Regions from separate parts of the Homo sapiens genome. Here region 2 is linked to region 1. The links come from fine-mapping of genetic effects on gene expression. A gene starts in region 1. The other region holds a variant in brackets. All regions are shown on one strand. Distances are from middle to middle.

What was found. PIP is the estimated chance that this variant, and not a neighbour inherited with it, causes the effect.
Region 2: its variant is fine-mapped to the expression of SPATA6L in testis (GTEx, PIP above 0.99).

What each region holds. Positions count from the first base shown.
Region 1 is chr9:4,664,859-4,669,128 of GRCh38, reverse strand. SPATA6L (spermatogenesis associated 6 like) reads left to right here and starts at 2,649. Exons shown (of 12, transcript NM_001353486.2): 1 at 2,649-2,917. The coding sequence starts at 2,879. PLPP6 (phospholipid phosphatase 6) reads right to left here. Exons shown (of 1, transcript NM_203453.5): 1 at 3,871-4,270. RefSeq lists silencers at 2,721-2,800, 2,811-2,860.
Region 2 is chr9:4,626,080-4,630,617 of GRCh38, reverse strand. It overlaps SPATA6L (spermatogenesis associated 6 like), which reads left to right. Exons shown (of 12, transcript NM_001353486.2): 5 at 1,450-1,527. Among named protein-coding and RNA genes, the nearest start is that of PLPP6, 34 kb to the left of the region's middle. The variant T/C (reference allele first, on the strand shown) is at 2,747.

The DNA of each region.
Region 1 (4,270 bases):
AGCCATAGGAAATGAATACATTGTATGTATTTACACTCCCATCAATGTGTTTTCCCATACCCTTCCCACTAGTGCTGTCTCTTTAATAGTTTCTTCCTTTCATATGAATACACTTATTATTTGAAATATTTATGATTTTTGTCTTATAATTAATTTTTTTAGTTAAAAAAAAATCTCAGCCATAATTATCTGTCATATTCTTGTTCTTTGTTAATTTACTCTTTGGAAAATCCCCATTTGGGGCATGTTTCATTTTCTTGTCTGGGGCCAGGATGTGAACGGGATGTGCTGCTGTATCATTTCTGCAATGCTGATGTCACTGCTGGCCAAGCTGCACTGCAGATACTCTCTGGAAATAGCAGTTGTTCATTGAAATCTGTTTGCTGCCACCAAGAGGTACCTACCCAGGTAATAAAGGCTTTCTCTTGAAGTGGTGACAGTCCAATCCTTAAAAGGCTTTGTTGGCCCCCGGCAGAGGTGGACAGCCTCAATGATAAATAACTTTGCAAGATGAGTGAGAGGGACTGGGTGTGTATAGCAACTGCCACATCTCCACAGCAGCTGAGAGCCTCAGGTAACCATGGCGGGGACAATTAGGAGAGTGTGAAGTATCCCCATCAACTCATTTAATATCACCATAGCAGATTTGCAGAAGTAGCTGTGCCTGGTCCTTTCTAATTCTGCAGATTTCTTTTACCCATTGTGATGGGACCTCTCTTTATCCATGTACATTAACCCCCACAGATTGGCTTGACCATCTCTGCATTTAATATTCAAAAATATTTATTATCTTCTATCCTATTTAGGGTATAAACGCTTAGCCATGCAGAGTTTACAGATTAAGGAGACAAATAGTAATCAAGAGTCACAGGAACAAATGTAAAACTGCTATTATGGCAGTCGCTACAAAGAGGAGATATATATATTTATATGTATGACATAAGATATGATATTGAGATTCCACCTTGTCAGCAGAAGAGAGGTCTTGGTGGGGTATGTAAATCTGTATACATGTGTTAATCAATGTCTGCAATGGATGACACTCTAAGTAAAGGGTATAGAGTGAGGAAAGGAAAGGACCTAGAAACATTGCTTAGCCAGAGGAGGATAAACAGACAAAGAAAGAATAGCCAGAAAGTTGGAGGGAAACCAGAAGAGAGCTGTGCCCTAGCAGCCAAGCAAGGAGAGTCCAGTTAGATCAAGAGTTAAGACTAAGAAGAGCATAGAATGGAACATTGTGTCTCTAGAGATCAACAGGATGTCTATATTGCAGACCCAGTGATGTGGTAGGGCACACCTGGATTCAAATGTGGCTGCTCCCTTATTAGGTCTGTGGCTTTTAGTAAAAGGCTGTCTAGCTTCAGATTCTGCATCTGTAAAATAGGGATAATATCTCCCTGATAGAGTTATTGTAGGGTTGAGATGAATTAGCATACGCAATGTGCCTAGCACTTTGCAGATCCTCAGTAAAGACTGATTCTTCTCTCCCAATACAACTCTGGCTATTTATTAATTTGTTTTGCTTGTCACTCTCCTTGATTTCTTAGCATTGGTGTTGGTGACCTACCTGTTAGGATCATCACAGGTCCTGTCCCACATCACTCTGGGTGTCAGCAAGTTGTGAGTGACAAATCAATGATCTGGACACTATAGATAGTTAGGTGCCCACCTGTATCTCTTGATATGCAGAGAGACACAGCACTAGGAACTGGATAAGGATACAATATGCCCTTCTTCATCATACCAAGTTTTTCCCTTCCAGGGAAATAAACTCCAGTTACCAAAATGAATACCCAATCTTGTCTTGACCATCCTTCTGCACTATTTCCAATTGTATAACTCTCTAATGCAAAATATTAGTAATAAATGACTGAACATAATTTAGGATTTAAAATTTTTTTTTCAGAGGCAGCATTGGCCTTCCTAGATTTTTTGGATTGCTAGAAGGAGCCACTACCTGCTCCTTTCCTTCATTTTTCTCTATTAGATGTAGTGAATGTCCCCTACTCATTCAGAACTCTTGCTCTGCGCACCACCTCTGACAGTGTTTACAGTAACTGTGGTTTTGGCAAATGCAATAACTACCCATTGGACTACTCAATGCTTGCCTTAAACTAAACCCCAGAAAAGGCTGGACACCGTTATGGAAAGACTGACATATTTCTATTGCTGCTAACAGGGGATACCTAACTTTTAAATATGTTTAAGAATTAACCTTATATTTCTAATTAGCACACGTTTGTTATTGACGGTGGCCATGTTTTCCGAAGCAAACATAACATTTAATAAGCAAAAGAGTATTTTTAGGAACAGGCAACTATATTAAATGAGAATTGTTACAGAAACTACAAGGCTTGGGGTCGTGCAGCTACTAAACGTGTACTATTTAAATTATAACAGACCTATGATCTCATTCTACTTTCAGAATGAAAACGGTAAACATTCTGACATGGTAATTGGGGATAGCAGGAGCTGATGGAAAGAAGATCGGGATTGTTAGCATTTCTCTATCCGTCTAGCACGCCAGACAGGGCCAGTCTCTCCGGCTGGGGGCACTGCGTGGGCAACAGCGACCGTGAGGGCGCGCGTCTGCGCTGGGGCCTCGCGCGCGTTCCACGATGAAGACTGCGCGTTTGAGTGTCCCTGGCAACGCCACGCTTCCGCCTTCTGGAAGCCTGCACTCCAGCTTCGAGTGTGAGAGACCCGTCCCGGTGGGAGGGACCTGGGCTGGGGGGGACGGTAGGGGAACAAGGGCGTGGGACTGGGGAAGCTTCTGGGAACATTTGCTCTAGGTATTCAGCTAAACTAAGAAAAATTGGTCCAAGGCTCGGCACAAAAGGATCTTCTCATTCCAGTCCTTTCGCCCACGCAGGGAACGATGCCTCTGGAGGTGGTGGTGGAGCTGCAGATCCGGGCGGTAAGAGATCGATGAACTCCCCCTCCTTAACCTCAAGTCGGACTCTAAATAGTCTCAGGTGGTTTTCAACAACCCTCCCCCACATCCCCCACTTACCACAAACACATCATTATCTTCTGGGACAGATCGCACCTTTGTCTTTTTCTCCATATTGGTTTTCCCTGACTTCCTAACCTTTAATTCAGCTCCACCTGTTCCCACTTTTTTTTTTTTCTGTTCTAAAGCTAACATGTTTCTTATCTTTATCATGAATTTTTAATTTCTTTTCAAACAACCCTGCATTAAGTCCAGGTAGAATTTATTTTCTTCTCCTGGATAAAGATTTGTGAAAGGATTTTCAACTTCTTTAAATAACCAGGGAATAATTTTAAAAAGCTCCATCACTTCCTGATTATTTGCCAACTCTATGAACCAATCAGATATTTTCTATGATATTTCCCCTTAGTGATAGCTCTGGCTTGCTAATTCCAAAAGGGAAATCAATCAATCACTATTTCGTAATTACCAAATCCTTCCTAAGTGAAGTGCTGTGGCAGAGTGACTCCATGGTTTCTACTTGGGGGTCTGTCACTCCCTCTTATTTCAGTTTCCATTTTCCAATCCTTCCATGTAGTTAGTAACAGAATATCATGCCGCTTTTCCTCTAGGGGCTTTTCTACTGGCTATGATTACAAGCACAGTGCTAACAGGAAATTGTCATGGAATCTGGTTGTCTTCCATACAATTGGCAAATGGTGTGGTTTCATCATACATGTGGGTGTGAAAGGTGATCAACATTTCCTGGATTTGTCCCACTTTGCTGACAGCAAATAGGGCTAGACCTTATTAGTAGTGCTATACCAGTTTTAAGCTCTAAAAATTGTGCAGGAAGAAGGAACTCTTGAGAAGCTAAGTGATAAATCTGTCTCCCTCCTCATCAAGGCAAAAATTAAGCAAGTTTTCATCTCACTTCATTCACCATTATTTGTTAATTTTATTTTGATTTTTAAAAGGCATTATTCAGTGTACAATTAACAAAGAAATCAGTTTTCTACTCTACTGTACTTAGGATGCTTCAAAAACATCAGGTGAAATGATCTATGCTTTAAGAGCCAGAAAACTCAGGCCTCAGCAACTAAAACAGAGAATTCCAAAATTGTAATTACAAATCAGATGGTAAGCCTAATTTCATGCCCCTAATATTCAGATTTGTGGACACTGCAAGAGGAAATATCATTTGCTTCCAAATATCTGGCTTGAATATTGCTGCAGTTAAAGGATCTCGCTAAGGTTAAACAACAAACCCAAACCACTTAGAGCTTCACAGTTTAGCTGCTTTAGCAAGTGAAGAGGTAGTCGGTATTCAGGATGCTG
Region 2 (4,538 bases), 39 kb after region 1:
CTATGGGCTTACCTGGAGGAGTTAGAGTGAGATCAGACATTGAGAGATGGGTAAAATTTGGATGGAAAAGAAAAGAAGGAAGATGCCCTCAGGGCAAGAAGTAACTTGGCCAGGTGGTGTTCTCTGGGGGAGAGTAGAGCAGAGAGGTGATGCAGAGGGGCCACTGGTGAGTCGATGGGGTCAGGTGGAGACAGTGTAATTTAGTCAGATCCAGGTCCTGTCCCTGTGGTGCCATTTATAAACCTTGTAAATTTGGGGAAATTGCCTTAATGTCTCTTTAGGCCTGTTTTTTGGGGAAAGCAGTTGTATTTTAAAAATTATTATACAATAAAATTGATGCTTTTTTGGTCTACAGGTCTATGAATTTTAACACATGTATAGATTTGTAAAACCACTGCTACGAGCAGGATGTAGAACAATCCCATCCCTCCTAAAATCCCCCTCATGTTACCCCTTTATAGGCACTTCCTCACCCTCACCCTGAGCACTAGTCTTTTCTCTATCACCATAGTTTTGTTTTTTTGAGAATGTCACATAAATGGAATCATACAGTCTGTAACCTTTTGAGACTGGCTTTTCTTACTTAGAAGAATGCTGTTGAGATCCATCCATGTAGTTGTGTGTGTCATTCATTTGTTCCTTGTTATTACCGAGTAGTTTCCATTATGTAAATACACCACAGTTCATCTGTTCACCCATTAAGGATGTTTGGATTGTTTCTAGTTTTTGCCCATTTTTCAGTTTTATCATCTGTAAAACAGGATGATTGTAATAATTGTACCTACCCTATAGGATTATAAGAATTAAACAGGATAGGGCATATATATATATATATATATATATATATACACACACACACACATATATAAAACACAATATTTTAGACAGTATGGTACTAAGAACAAAAAATAGAAATAGAAAAATCAATGAAACAAAATGAATTTGGAATTAGATCTAATGAATATAAATATCTGATATAAAATATAAAGCAAGTTTTTCAAAGCAGGTAGGTAGAGAGGAAGGCTCTGTATTCATACCTCTCTCTAGGTAATCTCATTCAATTCCATGGTACAGTGTTTTAAATAGAGTAGCTAACATCATGGACACTGGAGCCGGAATGCCTGGGTTCAATTAATAGCCCTCATTACTAGATGGACATGTTACTTAAACTGTGTCTTAGTTGAGGAGATACTATTATAAAACCTGCTTCATGGGGTTGTGTTAGGATTAGATGAGTTAATATATATGAATTACTTAGGCCTGGCTCTGATACATAATATATATTACATAAGTGTTTAGCTATTCTTATTACATATATATTTTAGATAATGTGTGTGGATTATGCCACACAGAAGAGCAGTTAGGTTCTTGTATGATTTCAAGTTAGAAGGAGATGGCTAAAGAACTGTTTCTAGTAATTTTATTTGCTTTTTTTATGCTGTTTTATAGGGCATTGCTCCCAAAATAGAGTTTTCTACAAGGACAGCCATCAGAGAATGTGTGTTTCTGCATAGAAACAGATTTCTTGTAAGTACAATACAAATCTAGTGATAGAAATGACCGGATTTTTTTTTTTCAAATTTAAAGAATTTTTGCCCAAACTCAGTTTATTAAGTTTACATGAAACTAAACAAGTAGAAACCTGGAAAGTTTTTACTAGGTTTGTATTTCTATAATTCAAACTGTTTGCTCAGCCAGTCATATTAGAGTATGTTTGGTACATACGTTTGGCAGCATGATGTAGCTGGAAGCAGGGTGATTCAGAAGCTAAAATTACAAATTTGATGTAAGTGAGCTAATTAGCTTTTGTTATTGTTGTTCTATGACATTTACTTGTGATCTTATGAACAACAGTTTCCATCTTTCTTTTTTAAAAATTTAAAAATTTTAGGCTGGGCATGGTGGCACTTTGGGAGGCCGAGGCAGGTGGATCACCTGAGGTCAGGAGTTAGAGAAAAGCCTGGGCAACATGGTGAAACCCCACCTCTACCAAAAATACAAAAAGTAGCTGGGCATGGTGGCGTGCGCCTGTAGTCCCAGCTACGGGGGAGGCTGAGGCATGCAAATCGCCTGAGCCTGGGAGGTCAAGGCTGCAGTGAGCCAAGATGGCTCCACTGCACTCCAGCCTGGGTGACAAGAGTGAGACTCCATCTCAGAAAAAAATAATGATAAATAAATAAATAATAAACATAAAATAAAAATTTAGAAATTTTAATTTTTTATGGGTACGTAGTACCTGTATATATTTATGGGGTACATGAGATATTTTGATATAGGCATACAGTATGTAATAATCACATCAAGGTAAATGGTGTATCCATCACCTAAAACATTTATCTTTTGAGTTACAAACAATCCAATTATATTCTTTTAGTTATTTTAAAATTTACAGTTAAATTATTATCGACTATAGTCACCCTGTTGTTCTATCAAATACTAGATCTTATTCATTCTTTGTATTTTTTTTTTGTGCCCTTTAACCATCCCCACTCCCCCTCAGCTCTCATGACCCTTCCCAGCCTCTGGTAACCATCATTCTACTCTCTGTCTCCATGAGTTCAATTGTTTTAATCTTTAGCTCCCACAAATAAGTGAGAATATATAAAGTTTGTCTTTCTGTGCCTGGCTTATTTCACTTGATATAATGGCCTCAACTTCCATCCACGTTGTTGCAAGACATAAAAAATAATGGCTGAATAGCACTCCATTATGTGTATGTAATATAATTTCTTTATCCATTCATCTG[T/C]TGATGGACACTTAGGTTGATTCCAAATCTTGGCTATTGTGAATAGTGCTGCAGTAAACATGGGGCCACCTTTCTTTTGCTGAGGCTGATGCTCGGATTGTATTCATGGTCCGTCTTTGGTAAGCGTGAAGCGTCTTAGGGCATCCATGTGTACTACCTCAATTTTACTTGCTTCTTCAGTCCTAGTGTCTGCCTCCCTCACCCCAATTTCTTTCTGTTTTGCTTTTACCTTATTGCATATAATGTTGTTGCCACTTAAAATCCTTTCTAGAACAAGATGGAGAAGGAATAAAGGTAGTTTGTGAAGCTTCTCCAAATACTTTGGGACAGGGTAGAGTAAAACCTGTAAGTGAAACAAAATGCTTATCCCAGATCTCATGTAGGGTCCTAGAAAAGACCTTGAAAATGTGGGCTGTATGTTACAGAATACTTAATGAGAAAGAAGGGCCAATAATCTGTGCAAATCTATCAAAACTCTTAGCTAAATAACTCATATAATGGGAGACCAATGATTAATTTTAAGGAAGGCATTATCTGCTTTTTAGTTTTGCCTTATTTATCCTCTCTTCTCTCCAATTTATTTGTGATGTGTTCATAGCAATTTTTCAGTGTTTCTTTCTCTTCCATTCTACCATCTTAATGCTGTTTTAACTTCCTAGGTCCTTCTTTCAGTGTTAACTTTTTAAACAAATAGTTTTATTGTTTTTTTTCTTGAACTCCTGGCCTCAAGAGATCCTCTGCTTCAGCCTCCCTACGTGTTGGGATTACAGGCATGAGCCACCACACTGTCTGTTTTTTTTTCCCTTAAAACAAAAGTATCACTTTATGTTAGAAAATTAGAAAACAAAGATAAATAAGCAAAAAGGACCCAAAACTTAAAAAAAACTGTCTCATTCTTGCCATTTAGAGATCAGCATTAATTTTTTTAGTATATTCTGTACACACATCACACTTTTAAAAAAGATTGAGATCACGCTGCATTGCATATTATTTTGTACCCTTCTTTTTTTTACTTAATTTATGATAAACATTTTCTCATGTCCTCAGGTACTCTTGTGCCAGACAATTTTTCATGGCTTCATAGTATTCCATTGTATGGAAGTACTGTAATCTGTCTGGCCATTCATTTTCCTTTTGTTGAGCACTTAACTGATATATCAGCCAGGGTCCAGTCAGGAAACCACACCAAACTTGTGACTGTAACAGAAAGATTTAATTTTTAAAAATGGCTAAACAGGGGTTGAAAGAAAGACTGAAAGATAAAAGGGGAACACTGAAATGACAGAGTAACTGCAGGAAGCAGCTTCCACCCCTAGGGCTGGGGAAACAAAGGGAAGATGTTGGTTCAGCAAGAACACAGAAGCTTAAAGAAGAAACTGAACAGAAATGGGACCCAGACCTCTGGAGAAGGGCTGCTTTCCTGGATGCTTCTTCAGGAATTCGAAGGTGGGACTTGGATGAGCTGGAACTCAGATCTCAAAGGAGGGGCACTGCTCACTGCTGGTGCCACAGGAGCTTGGAGGAAGGTTCCTGTGGGTCTAGACTCAAATCTGAACAGGGGGCTCTGGTCAGCTGCCGCTGATATGTCTGGAGGAGTGCAATGGGGCTAGTCCTGGCATAATAGGGGAAAGGCTATAATCTGGAGCCATTTGCAGCTGTTAAGGCGAAGAATGGTTGCAGGAATGATGCTAACAGGAATAGAATGCAAAACTGGAAGTAGCCAGTCACTGTGTCTCCTCCAGCCTTGCACTTTCTCTAGCACCTTCCAGTGGCAGAGCCTACAGAGACCAGG